2 separate regions of the Homo sapiens genome follow, and region 2 is linked to region 1. The links come from fine-mapping of genetic effects on gene expression. A gene starts in region 1. The other region holds a variant in brackets. All regions are shown on one strand. Distances are between the middles of the regions. Region 1 holds the start of DMRTC2 (DMRT like family C2). Region 2 overlaps CEACAM3 (CEA cell adhesion molecule 3).

Region 1 (5,365 bases):
AGAAAGCTGGGAAAAGACAAGTGTTGGCAGGTATGTGGGGATAAAGGAACCCTTGGCCCCTGATGCTCATGGCATTATTTGGAGGGCTGGGGAATAAAACACTATTTCTGGACTCTGAGAAACAAAGGAGTTGAGAGTTCTGACCAGGATCTCAGGCCCAAAGCAGCATTGCAGGGGTCTGACACTACATGGTCAAATTGGGTTTATAAATACCCATTTCCAGTATACCCTACATAGGTATTACAAAAATGTCCACCTTCATCTACAAAGGAACATGCACAATAATGCAGCATTTTTTTTTTCTGAGACTGGGTCTCGCTCTGTTGCCCAGGCTGGAGGACAGCTGTGCTCACTGCAGCCCCCACCTGCCAGGCTCATGCAATCCTCTCACCTCGGCCACCCAAATAGCTGGGACTACAGGTGTGCGCCAACACACCCAGCTTTGTAGAGATGGAGTTTTTCCATGTTGCCCCAGCTGTTATCAAACTCCTGGGCTCAAGCAATCCACCCACCTCGGCCTCCCAAAGTGCTGGGATTACAGGCATGAGCTCCCATGCCCAGAGAATGCAGCATTATTGTGGTGATGGTAGGTTGAGACAATGGGAGCTTCCCTCTCTGAGACCAAGTGAATGCAAAACATGCTGGGGATGTACGCTATGGAATATCACGCAGGAGTTGGAAGAAGTTGATTAGATGTACACAGGATGTGAGGCAGGGTACAGTGGCTCACGCCTGTAATCCCAGCACTTCGGGAGGCTGAGGTGGGCGGATCACCTGAGGTCAGGAGTTCAAGACCAAGCTGGTCAACATGGCAAAATCCTGACTCTACTAAAAATACAAAAATTAGTCGAGTGTGGTGGTGGGAGCCTGTAATCCCAGCTACTCAAGAGGCTGTGGCAGCAGAAGAATTGCTTGAACCCAGGAGGTGGAGGGTGCAGTAAGCCAAGATCACACCATTGCACTCCAGCCTGGGCAATAAGAGTGAAACTCCGTCTAAACAAAAAAAAAAAAAAAAAAAAAAAAAAAAAAAAGTACACATCATGACAGAATGACAGAATGTGTACATGGATAGATTGTAAAATCACAGTGCTGATTATTACAAATAGTATATAACATAATATCACTTGCATAAATTAAAAACTCAAACAGAGGTCGGGTGTGGTCGTTCATGCCTGTGATCCCAGCACTTTGGGAGGCCAAGGCAGACAGATCACTTCAGGCCAGGAGTTCTGGACCAGCCTGGTTAATATGGCAAAACCCCATCGCTAAAAAAAAAAAAAAAAAAAAAAAAAAAAAAAAAAAAAAAAAAAAACCCCAACAACAACACTACACACATCCTGGGAGAACACACACACAAACCAAAAGATACATATTAACCACCTTAGAATGAGAATTGCCTATAAGAAGGTTAGGGAATGAAAGTGGGGAATTGGTGGAAAATAACAGTGTAGGAGGGGGTACAAAGATCACTGACCTTGGCCTCAGAGACCCAGGTTGGAATCTTTACCCCTTCATTTACTAGCTGTCCAATTTGTTGAACTCAGAGCCTACTACCTTCTTTATAAAATGAAGTATAATACATCTCATAGGGTCATTGTGAAGATCAATAAAATTATTACCATAAGTATTAGGCAAATGCTAAGCTCTTTATAATCGTTGGTTACCCTGTTCCTCTACCACTATCCCTCCCTCCCACACACACTTCCTCTCACTCTCTCTCCACTACCTAAAGGATCAAGTTCAACCTCTTTAGCTGGCCTTTAAGCCTCCCCCGACCACACCCCACCCCACCCCAGATAAGCGCCACCCAACCTTTCCAATTTTATCTAGGACAGCTCCCCTGCCCAGCAGTCCAGCTAGAGGTCACGTCGGCCACCCTTTTCTGCCTGCAATGCCTCAGACACACATGCTCTGTAACCCAGAAATCTGTGGCCAAGAAAGGTGCCAAGACCCGCAGAAAAGCTGGGACACAGGAAAGAGAAACGAAGGCTGACAACAGATCTCACGGGGGTGAGGGAGATTAGGCCAATCAGAGAAGACAGCACACGCCAGCCTCAGATGCAGAACAACTGGACCTGGACCTAACAAGCTGAGTACAAGTGGAGACGCAACCAGAAAAGATTGAAGTGAAATCCTCAAGCAAAAAAAAAAAAAAAAAAAAAAAAAAAAAGGATGGAGCAGTAGTCAGAGGGGATGCCACCCCTACAAAAGACAAACAAATTGATGGAATGGAACCTTGCAGGGAGAGAGAGGACCAGCAGAGAGAGGGAGGCGTAGGAAAATGAGGAGTGGGGCACAAAGGTGGGGCTCTCAGGGAGAAGAGGAGTCGATTTTAGAGGGGGAGAAGAAAAGGACACAGAGCTGGCTGTACAGAGAAAAGGGGCCAAGGCAGAGAAGATGGCGGGATGGTGTGAGACGGAGTTCACAGAAATACCCAGAGAAGGCGACGATTACACAGAGGAGCCCCCAGAGGGGCGAACTCTTGAGGAAGATGAACGCGGAGGGTGGAGCCAGCCAGAAATTCAGAAAAACTAGAGGCGTCCCCGGTAGCGAAGGAAGCCGGGAAGGGGCCAGGCTATCAGGGCATGAAGCACGGGAGAAAATGGGTCCGAAGAGGGAGAGCGTCCGAGAGAAAAGGAAAATCAGAGATTAGGAAAATCACAACCGACACAAAGACAAGAAGAGACACAAGGAAAGGGGTGCAATCTGAGGAAGGAGGGCCCGGTAAGCAACCCGGTAATCACAGCGCTGGGAGAGAACGCATAAAAGAAGGGTAGCTCAGGAGTTGTGGGGCACCGGAAGAGACATAACAGAAAACGCAGGCCTCCACTCAGCAAAAACAAGCCACGCGCGAAGTCGAGGTACAAGGCAAGGGAAGGCCAGAAACGAGGCAACCCGTGCACAGACCGGGCTTGGTCAACGCCCCAGGGGCGGGGCCAGGCGGGCCGTTCCTGGGGGGCGGGGCCAGCCTCGGTCCAATAAGGGGTACTCGACGCCCCATTGGCCACCTGCCTCGAAAGGGGGAAGACAGTCTGGGCGGGCAGGACGTGCGGAGGGAGAGGCAGCGGTGGCGCGAGGCTCAACTCGAAGCGCTATTGGTGGGACTGATAGTCTTGTGCGCCAAGAAGCTGGCAGAAGGGAAGGGGCGGGACATCAGTTCAGGATCTCAAACCGCATTGGTCGTCTGCCTCGGCTGAGAGAGGCGATGCTTGAAGTTCATTGGTCTTTGTGAGACAGGGTAAGAAAAGCAGCGCGAGCTTGGCGGTTCCTCTGGCCACTTTCTCACAGTGTCTTTGGGCGTCTTCTTGACTGAATCTGACTCCATTGGAGGCTGTGGTAACCGTGAACTAGCTGCACGAACACGGTCCCTCCTGCCTTTCCGTCCTCCTCCCTCTTAGCCGGACTCCCTAACCCAGGCATCCCCTCTCCTCCCCCTCGCGCCCCTCCCGCCCTCGCGCCCCCTCTCCCCTTCCCTGCCTCGCGGGCCCCTTGGCGCGTTCCCGGTTCCCCACTCGCTCCCTGGGGCACGGGAAGGGGGGAGGGGGACATGCATGAAATTAATTGTTGGTAGTGGCCACAGGAGCAGGAAGCGCTGGACACAGTGACTTCACATGTTTACACAAAAACCTGAATAAGGTGTGAGCGCAAGAGAGACATTAGTGCCCCAAGGAGAAGGTTTTTGGCCCAGATCAGGGCCTAGCACATGACAGGGGCTCAGTAACCATTTGTGGAATGAATGAAGGAGTGAAGGAAAATAACTTGAAAGTGGGGCAGGTGGCGGGTGCGGTGGCTCATGCCTGTAATCCCAACACTTTGGGAGGCCGAAGCAGGCAGGTCGCTTGAGGCAGGTCAGGAGTTCAAGACCAGCCTGGCCAACATGGTGAAACCCCATCTCTACTAAAAATACAAAAATTAGACGGGCGTGGTGGCACAGGCCTGTAATCCCAGGTACTCGGGAGGCTGAGGCAGGAGAATTGCTTGAACCCAGGAGGCGGAGGTTGCAGTGAGCCGGGATTGCACTACTGCACTACAGCCTGGGCTACAGAGTGAGACTCCATCTCAAAACAAAAAAAAAGAAAGAAAGAAAGTGGGACAGGGGAGCCAAGCATAGTGGCTCCAGCCTGTAGTCCCAGCTACTGGGGAGGCTGCGGCAGGAGGATTGCTTGAGCTCAGGAGGTGGAGGCTGCAGTGAGCCATGATCACGCCACTGCGCTCCAGCCTGGGCAACAGAGCGAGACCCTGTCAATAAAAAAAAAAAGAAAGTGGAGCAGGGAATCCATGAGAATAAGGTAATTATTGGGGGTGCAAGAGAGGGTTCTGATTTAAAGGGGTACAAGAACAAAATAAGACTAAAGGAATGCAAGGAGGCAGTTGCTTTGCAGGGCATAGATGAGACTAAGAATTGAAATTGAACTAAGAATTGAAAGGGGCATAAAACTACTGGTAGGCATTGGATGAATGCATGAGAGTGGGGTGAGCATTGTTGAAGAGGATGCCAGGAAACACTGTTGGGACGGAACAGGGTGCTTGTGAAAAGGGGATGTAGGACTCGCTGAAGGGGTATGTGAGGACATGAGTAGGTTGGAACCTAGGATGTGTGTGTGGGTGGGAAAGTGTTTGGATTGAAAGAAAAGAATGTTTGAATTGAAAGAATACAGAATGTCGGGCGCAGCAGCTCATGCCTCTGATCCTAGCACTGTGGGAGGCCAAGGCAGGAGGATCGCTTGAGCCCAGGAGTTCGAGACCAGACCAGCCTGGGAAACATAATGAGACCTTGTCTCTATAAAAATAAAAAACAATTAAAAAAAAATTTTTTTTTTGAGACAGAGTCTTGCTCCGTCACCCAGGCTAAAGTGCAGTGGCGCGATCATGGCTCACTGCCAGCTCTGCCTCCCGGGTTCACGCCATTCTCCTGCCTCAGCCTCTGGAGTAGCTGGGACTACAGGCACCCGCCACCACGCCCAGCTAATTTTTTGTATTTTTAGTAGAGACAGGGTTTCACTGTGTTAGCCAGGATGGTCTCGATCTCCTGACCTTGTGATCCACCCGCCTTGGCCTCCCAAAGTGCTGGGATTATAGGCTTGAGCCACCGCACCCGGCCTAAAAATTTTTAAATTAAAAAAAGGGGGGACGGGTGCAGTGGCTCATGGCTGTAATTCCAGCACTTTGGGAGGCCGAGACAGGCAGATCACTTGAGGCCAGGAGTTCGAGACCAGCCTGGCCAACATGGTGAAACACCATCTCTACTAAACATACAAAAATAAAAAAAAATAGCCGGGCATGGTGGCTCTTGCCTGTAATCCCAGCTACTCAGGAGGCTGAGGCAGGAGAATCGCTTGAACCCGGGAGGTGGAGGTTGCAGCAA
Region 2 (5,365 bases), 34 kb before region 1:
TACAAATTTTGTTTTATCACTTACGAGTTCTGTGACCTTCCTTGACTTACTGAGGTGCTTTAAGTCTCAGATTCTAACTCTGCAGCTGGGGGTGATGCCCCCTCTCCCTCAAGGTGATGTAAGGATGAGATGAGTTGTAGGTAGGTTGGTGCCCACTGGAACTGGCACATGGAAGGCCCCTGAAAACAGTCAATGAACATCATCCCTGCTTATCAGCATTGAGTTGATGCCAAGGGCCTGCCCTTTGTGAGTGTCATGGGATGGAAAAGGAGAAACAGAGGGAAGAGGCATGATGCGAGAGGAAGGAGGGACTAAAAGGCACAGGAGCAGGGTGAGGTGCAGGCACCTCTGGGACAATGTATGAGTTGGTGCCGCCCAGTGTGTCAAGCCTGCAGAAAATGGTGCCACCATGGAAAGCAAGGGAATCTGTGATGAGGACAACACAAGAGACTACACTCAGGCCCCATGGCATCTCCTTCTTCCCTGACTGCACACCTTCCCTGCAAGGCCCCTGTGGTTTCCTCTGGGATAGACTTGGGCCTCTATCCCCTTTGCCTTCTTCTTTCTGCAGAAGAAAATGCCCCAGGCCTTCCTGTGGGGGCCGTCGCCGGCATCGTGACCGGGGTCCTGGTCGGAGTGGCGCTGGTGGCCGCGCTGGTGTGTTTCCTGCTCCTTGCCAAAACTGGAAGGTACCACAGCTTTTTCCCATCCTTCTCCCACCCCCTAGGCTGACTCCAGGCCAAAAGAAAGGAGACCTTGTCCTGTATTCAGGGCCAGGCTCTCCACGGCCTCCCAAGTCCCCAGGGATCCTTCCCTCTTATTCCACGGCTCCTCCCTCGTCAGCTCCTGACCCTGGGTTGCTGCCTCAACAGCTTCCTCCTCTGTGAATTTGGCCCAATTAAGGCCCCACCCCTGAGTGTGGCCCTAGTTCCCTCACACAGCAAAGCCACAGCTGCCTGGAGGGAGGGAGAGAAGGAGGGAGGGAAGTAGGGAGGGAGGGAGGGAGGGCGTGCTCTGTACTTGGTACCTCCCATTGTTCATTGAATCCATCCACACAGTGAGGGGGATTTGCAGGCTCCGGATCCTGGGCACCGTCACACAATGGGGAGTGGACCAGCCTGGACAGGCTGGGTGGGGTCAGTGCCCCCCATGGCTGATGTGGTAACCATAGGCCCTGAGGTGTGAGATGGGAGAACCTGGGCCTCAGAACAGCATGTCCTGGAGCGTCCTTTGTGTCTCTTGCCAAGGGGTTGAGAGAGAGGACAAGGACACTGTCCCATTTCAGCATCACCAGCCCTGAGTGCAGGGTCTGGCCACAGCAGGGACACTGAGTTCCAGGAGAATCCAAGACACTTGCGGTCCCCTCCGTGTCCTGCACACGTGGCCCTGCTTTGCCTCTGGGGACTTGACCCTTCCTCTCAGGCAAACCCTCGTGGTCTGTTTCCTTCCTTGGGTCCTCAGTCCCTTTCCTGGGTCCCTGGGTCAATGTTCTCCTGGCCCGGCATCTGCCTGAGGGTCCTTCCCCTCTGCTCAGGACAGATGTGGGTTCCTAAAGCCTTTCCTCAACTCCCCTCTGCTGGGCTCCCCCTAACACAAACCTGAGGGAGACAGGAGGTCTCCATGCCCATCCTTGAAAATGGGTTTCCCTTCTTGTCCCCTGTTCGAACTCCAAAGTTGTGGCTTTTAACCTGGCACCCTCCCAAATGACCCTGACCTTTCCTAGAACCAGCATCCAGCGTGACCTCAAGGAGCAGCAGCCCCAAGCCCTTGCCCCTGGTGAGTGTCCTCTCAGCCCAGGTGTGGCTGGGAACCCCTAGGACAGCCCCACAGTGTCCGCTCCTGCCAGTCACTGCCAGGCAGACTCTGATCCTTTCCCGGGGGCTGCAAGGAGGATCTCATAAAACATCACACAGGGGACCCCAATTGCTTGGGTCAGCCCTCACCTGTGGGCTCTGGGTCATGGGTCACCTCCCCAACCTCAGCTGCTCAGGTATCTTAGAGCTGAGGACCCCCTACGCCTTCCTGGAGAGGGGATAAGGCTCTCCTCCCACCCTGCTGCTCACTCCTGTCTCTGTTTCCAGGCCGTGGTCCCTCCCACAGCTCTGCCTTCTCGGTAAGCCTGTCCCCTTCCAGCCCCTTTCTACTGGGGTCCCAGCTGTGCAGGCTCTGGGCAGAGGGACCATCAGCCCCCCAGCACAGAACAGACCCACCTTCCCCCAAAACACACAGGACAAGGCTAGCCCTGCCCTGGCCAGGAGCTGGGCCTCCCTACAGGGTCAGGACCACCCACGCCCTGTGCTGACCCCTCCCCGGGACCCTCCATCACCTGAGGAGACCCCTGGAGTGCAGCAGGTGCAGAGTGGACACTGGGACCATCAGTCAGGGGCCCACATTAACAAGGGTGCAGGGTGGGCCCAGCCAGGAAAAGGGTCAGGGTGCTGTGTCCACACTGGGAGGCTGAGCTCAGGGGCAGAGCTGGTCACTCCTGAGGGGAAATGACCAGAAGTAAACACAGAGAAGTAAATCCTGGCCAATCAGAGACAGGAAACTTCCAGGCTGGGCCTCCATGACCCTCCCTCCCTGTCCACAGATGTCCCCTCTCTCCACTGCCCAGGCCCCCCTACCCAACCCCAGGACAGCAGCTTCCATCTATGAGGTGAGTGTGGGCCACGGATGTTCTGGTCCCACAGGCCCCAGGGGACCCAGGATCTTCCCCTACTGGCATCGGCTGAGCTCTGAGATTCAGGAAACTGCTGTGAAAATAAGAACGGGGGTGGCGAGCAGAGGAGGGAGGGGCTTGGGAGCAGGAACCCCCTGAGCACAGCCAGGTTCAGCCCCAGAGCAGCCCTGGATGGGCCCAGAGCCTGGGAGACGCCACACCCTGTTCTGAGGAGACTAGAGGGGTCCAGGCCTCTTCTCTGTTTTAACAGGAATTGCTAAAACATGACACAAACATTTACTGCCGGATGGACCACAAAGCAGAAGTGGCTTCTTAGCTTCCTCCAGGAGCTGCTCCTGTGTGTTGATGGAGAGTCCCCAAGGCCCCCAGCCCTGGGGATGGGGAAGGACATGAAGCCTGAGCCAGAGAACCAGCTATAAGTCCTGAGAAGACACTGGTGTCTGGGG[G/A]CAGGGAGGGATGGGGGTCCCTGATGAATATCTGGAGACCTCGACAGCCTGCCCTAGGCCCTGGGTGGGTCAGGACAAAGGCCTCTCATCACCGCAGAAAGCGGGGGCTTGCAGGGAAAGTGAATGGGCCTGTGGCCCACCTGGGGTCACTTGGAAAGGATCTGAATAAAGGGGACCCTTCCTCTCATTAGCTGTTTTTCTGCTAGTGGGAACTTAGCAAAAATTCGCCTGAAACTCCATATCCATTCTCTCCTGGGTCACACAAGGAAAATGTCATCTCCAACTTATTTCAACCCCAGTCTCTCTTCCCTGGGAGGCAGAAATAGGGGGTTGGGAGTCAGGCTGGGGTGGACCCTACACAGGAAAGGGCAGGATTCACAGGAGACCTGCCCAGCCAGCTGAGCGCTTGGCTGTGCTCATACTGCCCCAGGGACCCACGGTGCCTAGCCCTGGCCACTGGGTTTCTTCTCTGTCCAAAAGGCCAGTGCTCAGGACATCTTTACCCATATCAGGGGACACACAGAGGGCCTGTCAGAGTAATCAAGGTGAGGACAGACCCAGAATTTAGTCCTGGAGTAAAATCCTCCCAGACACTACCTGGGACTCTAGCCCATCATTTCCCATCAGTTCCCACTTTACCCCCTGGAGTGGATCTCACTGAACAATCCTCCACTCCACACAGGAGATTCCAGGTCAGAGACACAGGGCTCTCTCACCTAAAGCTCACGCAGTCTACCATGGCAATGGGACAACCTCTCTCCTCTTCTCCCTGGCCTGCAGGGCCCTCCACTCAGGCCTCACCAGCAGCTCCACCACATACCTGGGCCGGCAGTTCTCTGTCCCTCCTGAGGGCCCTGGGGAGTGTAATGATCTCATGTAGGTTCACTCAGACCAGGTGTCCCCTTCCCACAATCAGGCTGGTCCCTGCACTAAAGCACAGAGCCACGGTTCCTGAGGGTATTCTGCCACTGCCCAGGGTTGTTTGCCATGAGATGGGAAGTAGGAAAAACAACCTGCAAATTTACATCAGGATTTAGCTCTAAATGACTCCTTACCTCACTTGTACACATCGTCAGATGAGACAAGGTGATGTCTCTTGTGTCAGTTTCCTGTTGATGCTGTGACAAATTCCCACAGGCCAGGCATGTTGGTTTGTGTCTTGGTCCCACTTACTCAAGAGGCTGAGGCAGGAGGATCGCTTGAGCCCAGGAGGTTGAGGCTGCAGTGAGCTCTGATCACACCACTGCACGCTGGCCTAGGCAACAGAGATGACAACTCCATTGTTAACTTAGTGGCATAAAACAACAACGTGTCCACTTGGCTGTGTTCTTCCTGGCAGCTCCAGGGAAAAGTCTGTTCCCTCACCTTTTCCAATTACTAGAGGCCGCCTGCATCCTTAACTTTGGCCCCTTCCTCCATCTTCAAAGCGAGCAGTACAGCATCTTGAAACCTCTCTGTGCTCTGCTTCCATCCTCACTGACTTCCCCGCCTCCCTGTCTCACTTGTATGGTTATTTTGGACCCACCTGGATAAACCACAATAATCTCCCCATCTCATCATCCTTCATTTATCTGCTAAGTGTCTTTGACCATGTGCCATATTCACAGATCTTGGGATGAGGATGTGTGCATCTTTGAGAGGGGCTTGTTCTATCCATCTCTCCTCTCAAGGCCATTTTATCATGATTGTTCACTACAAAGTACACATGGGCACCTGGATAGGGTTATCCTGACTGTGGCATCAGTTTTTGCAGTGACGTCCCAGCACCCTCCAGGTCCTGAGAGAGGGAGACGGAGGGCTCTCCATGCCCCTAGTACCTCTCCACCTTCTCCTCGGTGACAAGCTTAGTTGTTAAGAATAAAAGAGATGTGTCTGGGCGTGGTGGCTCACACCTGTAATCCCAGCACTTTGGGAGGCCGAGGCAGGCAGATCACCTGAGGTCAGGAGTTCGAGACCAGCCTGACCAACATGGCGAAACCCTGGCTCTACTAAAATTACAAAAATTAGCTGCACGTGCTGGCGCACGCCCATAATCCCAGCTACTCTGGAGGCTGAGGCAGGAGAATCACTTGAACCTGGGAGGTGGAGGTTGCTGTGAGCCAAAATAATGCCACTGCACTCCAGCCTGGGTGACAGAGTGAGACTCCATCTCAAAAAAAAAAAAAAAAAAAAAAAAAGAAAAGAAAAGAAAAGAAAAACAAAGAATAAAAGAGATGTGACTGGAAGATCACAACTCACC

Evidence for each region. PIP is the estimated chance that this variant, and not a neighbour inherited with it, causes the effect. A credible set is the group of variants that fine-mapping cannot tell apart.
Region 2: its variant is the best candidate, but not a certain one, in a credible set for the expression of DMRTC2 in whole blood (TOPMed, PIP 0.54).

Annotation. Positions count from the first base shown.
Region 1 is chr19:41,841,766-41,847,130 of GRCh38, forward strand. It overlaps DMRTC2 (DMRT like family C2), which reads left to right and starts at 3,277. Exons shown (of 9, transcript NM_001040283.3): 1 at 3,277-3,336. It overlaps LYPD4 (LY6/PLAUR domain containing 4), which reads right to left and starts at 2,918. Exons shown (of 5, transcript NM_173506.7): 1 at 1,813-2,918.
Region 2 is chr19:41,808,242-41,813,606 of GRCh38, forward strand. CEACAM3 (CEA cell adhesion molecule 3) reads left to right here. Exons shown (of 7, transcript NM_001815.5): 3 at 572-689; 4 at 1,724-1,776; 5 at 2,082-2,113; 6 at 2,591-2,656; 7 at 2,931-3,313. The coding sequence ends at 2,996. Among named protein-coding and RNA genes, the nearest start is that of CEACAM3, 14 kb to the left of the region's middle. The variant G/A (reference allele first, on the strand shown) is at 3,127.